Linked DNA regions of Homo sapiens: region 1 is linked to region 2. Evidence: fine-mapped expression QTL. A gene starts in region 2. The other region holds a variant in brackets. All regions are shown on one strand. Distances are from middle to middle.

Evidence for each region.
Region 1: its variant is fine-mapped to the expression of OLFM2 in whole blood (TOPMed, PIP above 0.99).

Annotation. Positions count from the first base shown.
Region 1 is chr19:9,851,166-9,856,536 of GRCh38, reverse strand. OLFM2 (olfactomedin 2) reads left to right here. Exons shown (of 6, transcript NM_058164.4): 6 at 1,674-2,819. The coding sequence ends at 2,351. Among named protein-coding and RNA genes, the nearest start is that of PIN1, 19 kb to the right of the region's middle. The variant C/A (reference allele first, on the strand shown) is at 2,841.
Region 2 is chr19:9,933,348-9,938,718 of GRCh38, reverse strand. It overlaps OLFM2 (olfactomedin 2), which reads left to right and starts at 2,204. Exons shown (of 6, transcript NM_058164.4): 1 at 2,204-2,415. The coding sequence starts at 2,353. RefSeq lists enhancers at 1,185-1,687, 2,354-2,948.

The DNA of each region.
Region 1 (5,371 bases), 82 kb after region 2:
CAAGTAACTACCCAATGACCAATGCCCTCCCAAGGACAAGAGACCTCTTCCACCAAGCACTGCTCAGTGACCTTCGGACTTCTAGTAGCTTCCATGGTCATGACTGCCCATCACTTAGACACACAAGAACCATCCATGAGGCTGGGCATGGTGGCTCATGCCTGTAATCCCAGCACTTTGGGAGGCTGAGGTGGGCGGATCACCTGAGGTCGGGAGTTCGAGACCAGCCTGACCAACATGGAGAAACCCTGTCTCTACTAAAAATACAAAATTAGCCGGACATGGTGGTGCATGCCTGTAATCCCAGCTACTCGGGAGGCTGAGGCAGGAGAATCACTTGAACCCTGGAGGCAGAGGTTGCAGTGAGCCAAGATCGCACCATTGCACTGCAGCCTGGGCAACACGAGTGAAACTCTGTCTCAAAACAAAACAAAACAAAAACAACAACAAATGCTAGTTAACATGATGACAACAATGATGTTGATGACACGCCTGGTCACCTCATGGTGACAGGGGTTAGTTAACCATGGCAGTGAATTCAAGTGATGTCTTATCATTCAATGGCTGTCCAGTGACCACTAACCACCCAATATTCAATGACCAGGGAATTCCTGGGCCCAGTGACTCCCCAGGGGCTGCAGTTCCCTGGGTCCTTTGGGATGGAGCATTGTCCACTTAGGGTCTGTTTTAAGATCAATAGTGGCCAGGTGCAGTGGCTCACGCCTGTAATCCCAGCACTTTAGGAGGCCGAGGCAGGCAGATCACTTGAGCTCAGGAGTTTGAGACTAGCCTGGGCAACATTGCGAGACCTTGTCTCTACTAAAGATACAATAAATAAGCTGGGCGTGGTGACTTGTGCCTGTAGTCCCTGCTATTCCGGGGGGCTGAGGTGAGAGGATTGCTTGAGCCTGGGAGGTCGAGGCTGCAGTGAGCCGTGATTGTGCCACTGCCCGCCAGCCTGGGAAAAACAGTGAGACTTTGTTTCAAAAGAAAAAAAAAGGCCAGGCGTGGTGGCTCATGCCTGTAATCCCAGCACTTTGGGAGGCTGAGACAGTGGATCACAAGGTCGGGAGTTTGAGACCAGCCTGACCAACATGGTGAAACCCCATCTCTACTAAAAATACAAAAATTAGCCGGGTGTGGTGGGATGCGCCTGTAATCCCAGCTACTCAGGAGGCTGAGGCAGGAGAATCACTTGAACCTGGGAGGCGGAGGTTGCAGTGAGCTGAGATCACGCCACTGTACTCCAGCCTGGGCAACAGAGAGGGACTCCATCTCAAAAAAAAAAAAAAAAATTACTTAAAAAAAAAAAAGACCAATAGCACTCACTGGGATTTGGGTCCTACTGGGGCCATGCAGTTCCCCAAGAAACTGCAGCCCCTGGGGACTCACTGGGCCCAGGAATTCCCTGGTCATTGGATATTGGGTGGTTAGTGGTCACTGGACAGCCATTGAGTGATAAGACGTCACTTGAATTCACTGCCCATGGTTAATGCTGTCACCAGGAGATGATCATGGTCACACTAGGGCCATAATTGGTAATGAATGGTCAACAGAGTTCCCATGACTAATGACCACTTAGTGACTGTTGAACTCTAATGGCTGTAGCTGGTGCTGGGACCCTTGGGTCGTTGGTGGTGGTTCCCCCCAGTGACCAGCGGCTGCTACCATAGGTCTGGTACATGGATGGCTATTACAAAGGCCGCCGGGTCCTGGAGTTCCGTACCCTGGGAGACTTCATCAAAGGCCAGAACTTTATCCAGCACCTGCTGCCCCAGCCGTGGGCGGGCACGGGCCACGTGGTGTACAACGGCTCCCTGTTCTATAACAAGTACCAGAGCAACGTGGTGGTCAAATACCACTTCCGCTCGCGCTCTGTGCTGGTGCAGAGGAGCCTCCCGGGCGCCGGTTACAACAACACCTTCCCCTACTCCTGGGGCGGCTTCTCCGACATGGACTTCATGGTGGACGAGAGCGGGCTCTGGGCTGTGTACACCACCAACCAGAACGCGGGCAACATCGTGGTCAGCCGGCTGGACCCGCACACCCTCGAGGTCATGCGGTCCTGGGACACCGGCTACCCCAAGCGCAGCGCTGGCGAGGCCTTCATGATCTGCGGTGTGCTCTACGTGACCAACTCCCACCTGGCTGGGGCCAAGGTCTACTTCGCCTATTTTACCAACACGTCCAGTTACGAGTACACGGACGTGCCCTTCCACAACCAGTATTCCCACATCTCGATGCTGGATTACAACCCCCGGGAGCGCGCCCTCTATACCTGGAACAACGGCCACCAGGTGCTCTACAATGTCACCCTGTTTCACGTCATCAGCACCTCTGGGGACCCCTGAGCCAATGCTGTGGCTCGGGCTGCTGCCTGGGGGGCCTCTGGGGGCTGGGGGCCCTTTTCATTCTGCCTGTGTCCCTCAAGGGTGATCTCTCTGTCTCTGTCACGCCCTTTCTCCCCGCCTTTTTGCTGGGCTTTTGTTCTCTGCCTATGTATTTCTGTCTATTTTTTCAATTTCCCCTCTTCTCCTTTATTGATCTCTGCTTTTAATACACCACTTCTTTCTTTCTGCCTTTTTATGGATGTCTTTTTCTTTTTATGGCTCTGGTTCTCCAGTTCTTTCCGTCTCTGCCTCTCTCTGTCTCTCTCTCTCTGTCCTTCCACCCCTCCCTCCTTGCTTCCCACCCATTCCTCATCCCTCACTCCCACCCCCACCCCCACCCCCAGGAGTTGAGTGCATGGATCTGTTTCTTTTTTTATTTACACTTTTTCTTTCCGGTTTGCCGGAATAAACAGGACCTTTGACATTTGACGCTTCGGTGACTGTGTGTGT[C/A]CAATGGCGACAGAGGTGGAGGTGGCCCCGAAGTCCAAGCCTGGAGACCCATCTCCAGTGAGGATCCCCTTATTCCATGACTCAAGCTTAAGCGAACTGGGGGGAAGGGGTTCCCCAGGGCCAGCCCTTTGGGGAGATGGGTGAGGAGACCCAATCCAAAGTTGTTTTGATCGAAAGCAATTCGTTTAAAAGCAGTTTGATCAAAACAACCGAGAATTCTAGCACAGCAATGAAAACTGGCCTCAAATGAGTATTCTCCCGTCACTGGATTGCCACTCTGCAATCACTGTTGATGCATTACTAAGAGGTCTGGAATTTTTTTTTTCTTTTTTTTTTTTTTGAGACAGTCTTGCTCTGTCACCCACGCTGGAGTGCAGTGGCATGATCTCAGCTCACTGCAACCTCCACCTCCCAGGTTCACACGATTCGCGTGCCTGAGCCTTCCGAGTAGCTGGGATTACAGGCACGCACCACCATGCCAGGCTAATTTTTGTGTTTTTAGTAGAGATGGGGGTTTTGCCATGTTGTCCAGGGTGGTCTTGAACTCCTGGGCTCAAGTGATCCGCTCCCCTCGGCCTTCCAAACTGCTGGGATTACAGGCGTGAGCCACTGAGCCCGGCCAGTCTGGCAATTTTTTAATGGGTTTTTAACAATCGAGCTGGCTTTTAAGAAGCTGAGTATGAAAGAGTAGGGCCCAGCTGAATTTTTCCATTTTCTTTTTTCTCTTGTTGCTTTGTAATTTCAAAAATCGTTTTTAGACAAGTCACATTTGTGCCGAGTAAACTAATCCCAAAAAAGCTAGAAACAGCCTTTTAAAGGGGCACTCAGGTGCCTTCAATTGAACACACTCATACCTCACACCTGGAGCCTGTTTGCCTGCAGGAGGGATTGGGCAGGGACAGCCCTTGATGGGGGACCAGAATTCTTGGAGGGGAAGGAGAGGAAAAGACAAGAAGTTTTGGAGGCAGGAAAGAAGAGTATGAGGGAGACAGGAAGGGACTGAACTAGGAGTAGGCTGGATGCAGCAGCTCATGCCTGTAATCTCAGCACTTTGGGAGACTGAGGGGGAAGGACTGCTTGAGCCCAGGAGTTCAAGACCAGCCTGGGCAACATAGCAAGACCTCGTCTCTAAAAAAATTTTACAAAATTAGCCAGGCATGGTGGCGTGCGCCTATAGTCCCAGCTACTCGGGAGGCTGAGGTGGGAGGATCTCTTGAACCCAAGAGTTCGAGGCTGCCATGAACCATGAGTGCCACTGCATTGCAGCCTGGGCCACAGAGTGAGACCTTGTCTCAATCTAAAAAATAAAAAAGGAGACGCTAAGTCCTCAGCAGCCTTAGAGATCTGGCTAAAGGCAGGGGAAGGGAAGTCACAGAAGGGGAAGAACCAGATGAGGGCTTTATACGAGCCAGGCCTGTCTGAAGGCCTGCATGAGGCAGACCTAAGGGGTGCAGCCAGGCTAGTTGGAAGGGGTACAAGAAAGGTGAGGAGCGTCACCCTTGGGGCTGAGGGACCAAGAATGAAGGTAGGGGGTGCTGCCCAGGTGATCCTGCCCCATGTTGACCCCAGTGGTTGGTCCCTATTGAATCCAGAGCAGAAACAATCATTTAAAGAGCCCTATTGGCCCAGACCGCCACCCTGCTGAGGCCACAAAGGGGGCACTCCCACTCCTCCTGGGGGAGGCTCTCCTCATCTCTAATTAATGGTTACCCTGATTAAATCATCTCCGCTCCGTGCTGGCATCTCCGGGAACTCGGATACCGGGGCCATATTGGGAACGAAACCAACGAATAATAAATGGGACTGCCTAATGTACTCATTTAAAACCAATTTTTAGAGAAATCCTCAAGAAAAGCAATTAATTTCCATTTAAGCGAATATGTTTGACATCGGAAAAAGGATTAATTCCCGGATTAGCATGTGGAGAGGCACTTTACCCTGTACCTGCTGAAGAAATGAAAAGCAGCACAAAGCCAGGACACCTAGAACATCTGTATCCCCCCCAACTCACATTTATTTGGAGGCAGAGAGTCTCCACAGTGAGGGGACGAGGTAGTTTATCGGCCTTAGATACTGGATTCTCCTAAAGTAAGGTGGAGAATTGAGGCTGCTGAGGTCCACAATCTGTGTCCACACTATGCTGAGTGCTGGGGAGCCACATCCTCACACCGAGATTAGGGCTGGGTGTGGGTGTGTCCATCACATCTGTATCAGGTCCTCAGAGAGATCACACACACACACACACACACACACACACACACACACACGCTCAGAGCTCCTTTTGAGTTTGTGGCTTTTGTTACAAACAAGGATGGGCAGGCAGACTAACATTTCCCAGGCCAGGATCAATCTGTGTGCGTCTTCGGCTATCCACTGCTAACTCACTGACTTCCCCTCTCATCATGGACGTGGGCACAGCGAAGCCAACTCCTGTCCTGGGGCAGTAATACCGTTTACCCCAAGGTGACCTGCTCCAGCTCTGCCCAGCGGCCACAGAAGCCAGGGGCACGTAGAGACTGACCCCCTGGGGC
Region 2 (5,371 bases):
ACCAAGCTCTTTCTCATTGACCTGACAAAACCATCATCGACATGTTTTATCCCCAGTAGGGTTGAGACAGGAATGATCCAGGGTGGTCACAGGCAGCCGTTTCACATGACTAGAGGCTATGGGCTGATAAGATCCTGAAAACCAGGGTGTGGACCAAGCTGGCTAAGACCTACTGGACCCAACATGGCGTTACATTCTACCTAGGTTTCACCTAGGATCTCATTATGTACTCATTAAAATACTAAAATTACCCACCCACCAGCGCCCTTGACAATTCCAGGGACACCCAAATTTGGTGTAAAAGTGGGTGGCACCACAGTCCACCTTTTTCCAGTTTTCATGAATATTCCATCCCTTGGTTAAAGAGATACACAGTGGCCTGTTGTGGTGGCTCACGCCTGTAATCTCAGCACTTTGGGAGGCCAAGGCGGGTGGATCACGAGGTCAGGAGTTTGAGACCAGGCTGGCCAATATGGTGAAACCCTGTCTCTACTAAAAACACAAAAAATTAGCCGGCTGTGATGGCGCACACCTGTAATCCCAGCTACTCAGGAGGCTGAGGCAGGAGAATTGCTTGAACCTGGGAGGCAGAGGTTGCAGTGAGCCGAGATCACACCACTGCACTCCAGCCTGGGTGACAGAGCGAGACTTTGTCTCAAAAAAAAAAAAAAAAAAAAAAAAAAAGAGACACATAAAGGTAGCAGTCCCAAACCACCTTGCCCATCTCTCTCTCTTAAGTACGCCCACTCCCTTTTCTCAAGTGTGGACTTTTCCCTTAACAAAAAAATCTCCGAACTTTTCATGATTTTCTGATTCCTCCTTGAATTCATTCTTGCGATGGTGTTAAGAGCCTGGACACCAGCTGGGGTCGAGGCCCCACCAGCGTCTGGGGAGACCCCTCCTAGCCCAACAGTATCAGGGTCACAAAAATGCCAGGCTTCCTGGCCTCGCATATTTTATGCCCGATTTCTTTCCAATCTGACTTATTTGCCCGCCCCCCTCCTCCACCTCTGCCTACATATATCCGAATCCCTAGAGGGGCTGTGGGGAGGAAAGACGACTAGGGACACTTTTTTTTTTTTTTTTTTTTTGAGACAAGGTTTGCTCCTGTTGCCCAGGCTGGAGTGCAATGGCACGATCTCTGCTCACTGCAACCTCTGCCTCCCGGGTTCAAGCGATTCTCCTGTCTCAGCCTCCCGAGTAGCTGGGATTCCAGGCATGCACCACCACGCCCGGCTAATTTTTGTATGTTTTAGTAGAGGTGGGGTTTTGCCATGTTGGCCAGGCTGGTCTTGAACTCCTGACCTCAGATGATCCACCCTCCTCAGCCTCCCAAATTGCTGGAATTACAGGCGTGAGCCACCGCGCCCGGCCTAGGGAGACTTTTGGAGGAGTGAGAGGCAGAGAAAGGCTGGAAAGCCTCCCGAAAGTGAGGCTAGACAAGGACGCCCTTCATATGCAAATGGCTTCGCGTGGAGGCGGTGTTAATATTTTGATTCTCTCGGGGGATGTGGTCTTTCATCTTGGGCTATTGAAACAGGGAGCGAAGAGAAACTCTTCCAGGTGTGGCGGAGGCGGGGAGGCTTCCAGCGGGAGGACTGGTGGGGAAATGGGGCGCCCGGGGAGAGTGAAAACGAGACGCCCCTTTTTGAGGCCAAGCCCACCCACGTGGCCATTTCCATTGGCCTCTTGCCTGATTCTCGGTCTCCTGTCCCCCCAACCTCAATTTTTTCCTCTTATTCCCCGTCTCCATCTATGCCTCACCCCTCTTGTCCTGGCATTGACCCCTCCTCCAACTTCCAATTTCAGATTCTGCCTCAGTTTCCCTGTTGACTCTTGAGTTTTTAGGGAGGGGGCGTTCATCATTTCCCCTCTCTGCTACCAGGCCTTCCTCCTATTCCTCTCCCCCAACCATTCGTCCCCGTCCCACCTGCAACGTGGGAAATGCCCCCGGAGGGTGAAATTTACAAACACGTGACGGGCACCCCTCCCCCACCTCCGCGACCCGCTCCCGGAATGGCCTGGGGGTTGGGGGGCGCTGCCAAGTCCTGTCCTCAGGTCCCCTCGCCGGCGCTGGCTCCCCCACTTCCCCGCCCCCACCCCCCCACCCGACCCTGCTCGAGCTGCTCCCGAAGAGGAGCTGGGGGCGGGGCGGGGGGCGGAGCCCGCAACAAAGACTCGGAGCGAGCGAGGGGGCGGGGGTGGGGCGGAATCCCGGCCGCCGGCGAGGCGGGGGAGGCGGCGGCGCAGGGTCGCCCCGGCCGGGCGGGCGGGGTCGCGCCTGGTGGCGGTCCCCGCGCCGAGGCGCCGCTAGGGCGGGCGGGGGTCGGGACGCCGGGCTAGGGGCGCGTCATGTGGCCGCTCACGGTCCCGCCGCCGCTGCTGCTGCTGCTGTGCTCAGGCCTGGCCGGACAGGTAGGGGCCCGGCGGGCAGGTGCGGGCGCGGGTGGCTCCGGGAGAGGAGGGGGGCGCGGAGGGTTCCCGGAGAAACGGGGTTGGGAGGCTCCACAAGCCCCCCCAGCTGCAGGGCGGCGAGGGGCGGGGGTCGCAGCGGGGGAGGGGCCGGGACGTGCACTCTCTGGCTTGGGAGAGGACGAGGGGGGCTTCAAATCCAGCCTCAAGCTGGGCTGGTTTGGGGGGTGGCGTCTTTGGGGTTCTCAACCCCTCCATGGCCCCGAGCCCCCACCCCGCCATCTCGCTGGAGCTGAATGGGGTTGGGAGGGAAACTTCAGGGGGCATTGGAGGGGGGCGGTTGCTTACCCTTGACTTCCTCTTCGGGGCCGAGATGCCCAGTTTCTGAAGCCCTCCACTCCTCGCCTGCAGCCCCCAGTGTGGGGCAGGGGACGGGACTCACGTGAGAGTGACTGACGGGGACGCGTGTGAAATGCTGTGGGGGTGCAGGGTAAACGTGTGTGTCTTTGTGTCGTGGTTGGGTGTGACCGGGGGGAGTTTGTGTGTGTGGCGGTTGGGGGGCTTGTCCAACTAGTGCCCGAGTTGGGGTGTGATCAGTACGTGAGACAGAGTCTGTGTGTGACCGTGTCCTCATTACTGGCTCCAGATGACTGGGTGTTGTACAATACGTGTGTGGCCAGGTGTGTGGCCGTGTGAGAGCCTTGGAGTGAGCGTGTGCTATTCTGTACCTTTGGGTAAATCACTCTAAAAGGGTGTGTGTGTGTGCAAGCGCTGTGTGTGCAAACGTGTCCATCCATGCACGTGTGTGTGTGTATCTTGGTGCCTTGCTCACAACCGCACACGCCATTCATACCCTTACAGAAGCGGGTCTCCCTCCCCATGGCACCTTTCTCTTGGGCAGGCTCAGGGAGGCTTGCAAAATGTGGGGCGTCCACGCTCTCTTTTGCTATTGGAAAGCCCCTCTCCTCCTCCATCTTGGGAGTGAGAGCACCCCCAAGTTCTCAGATCTGTAGGAGTTCACAGGGAAGCTGGGATCAAAAATAATAAAATAGTCATTATGATAACAGTGATCATTCATTACGTGCTAATTTGAGAGGTGCTGTTTCAATCACACAGCACAGACTAAGGCATTTAACCCCCTCTGCCTCCTCCCTACTAGAGCATGGTATTGTTACCTCATTTTATGGATGGGGAAACTGAGGCGCAGAAAAGTTAAATCACTTGCTCAAGCTCGAGAGTGACAGAGGTGGGACTGAACCGAGGCAGTCCGGCTCCTGAGCCCACACGATTACCCTCTTGTTAAATAATCCGCTCCATGGGTGTGGACAGCGTCCGTGAAGACATTGCTAGGTGGGCTTTTAGGTAGATAGGCAGGGGAGAAACAATTTGGGCACCTTCCCCTTATCAAGAAAAGAATCAGACCCTTGTGCTCACCCCGAGGGGGGTGTTGGGAGGAATGGAGGTTAGACTCCAGATAGAAGGATTTCCAGGCCACGAGGAGAGATTGTGGGGTCCCCTCCCTCGCTCCTCCATTTCCCCACGCATCTCAGCACCCACGCGCTGGGTGGGATAGGGAGTGTGCCCAGCCCCAGGCATGAGGACACACACAATAGGTACTCAATGGATGTGTGAGCCTGAGAGAAGCCAAGAGACACACCTGGGAGACGAGAGACCAAAAGAGGCACACACTTGAGAAACCAGTGGAAAAAAAATGAGCCAGGAATCAAGTTGAATTATCCTTGACCTAGCAGAGGAGACAGAGAACCACCCCCTGTGGCTTCTCCTCCACTCCCTGCTAGGGGGGCACTAGATTTTCTGGCTTCTCACCAAGATTGGCTAGGATGCCAGAGTTTGCTGCCAGAATTGCAATTGGAGGGTGACTCCTACAGCCCCCAGGGCTGGGAGGGAGTTGCTTTGGGGGCGGGACTAACGAGGTCAGTGGAGGCGGGGCTAAAGGACAACGGGGGCGTGGCCAAATGAGGTAATCCGTTAGGGCGGGGCTGGTGGAATCCTGCCGCGGGCTGCAGTGCCTCCAGGCGGCCACCGCGGGAACTACATGGTTGTGAAACAGTCTCGGCGCCCCATACACCCCCTTGGCGTTGGCCCACCAAGCCTGGCACCCCAGGGAAGGGAGGGGTCTGCAGAGAGGATGCTCTACCCACTCTTCGCTCCCTCCATCACTTTCCAAAGACTTCTTCCCTGTCCCTGATGGGCCCAGGGGTCCTTCCTAGAAATCATTGGTTAATCCATTCAATGAACAGATATGATTATGCACTGGGGATACAGCCACCAACTGAGTCATCAAATCCCTGCTCTCCTGGAGTTGACCTAGCAGAGGAGACAGAAAAGAGCCGAATAACCATGTAATACGGTGTCGGCAACTAAATATACATATAATACAATGCAAGTAGCATGAAGAATAACAGATAAAGTATAGAAGATTAGACTGGAGCCGGGTGCTGTGGCTCACGCCTGTAATCCCAGCATTTTGGGAAGTTGAGGCAAGTGGATCGCCTGAGGTCAGGAGTTCGAGACCAGCCTGGCCAACATAGTGAAACCCTGTCTCTACTAAAAATACAAAAAATTAGCTGGGTGTGGTGGCAGGCGCCTGTAATCCCAGCTACTAGGGAGGCTGAGGCAGGAGAATTGCTTGAACCTGGGAGGCAGAGGTTGCGGTGAGCTGCGATCGCCATTGCACTCCAGCCTGGACAACAAGAGTGAAACTCTGTCTCAAAAAAAAAAAAAAAAAAAAAAGATTAGAGTGATAGCAGTCGGGCATGGAGGCTCACGCCTGTAATCCCAGCACTTTGGGAGGCCAGGGTGAGTGGATCACTTGAGGTCAGGAGTTTGAGACCAGCCCGGCCAACATGGTGAAACCCCGTCTCTACTAAAAATGCAAAAAATTAGCCAGGTGTGGTGTTGCACACCTGTAGTCCCAGCTATTCAGGAGGCTGAGGCA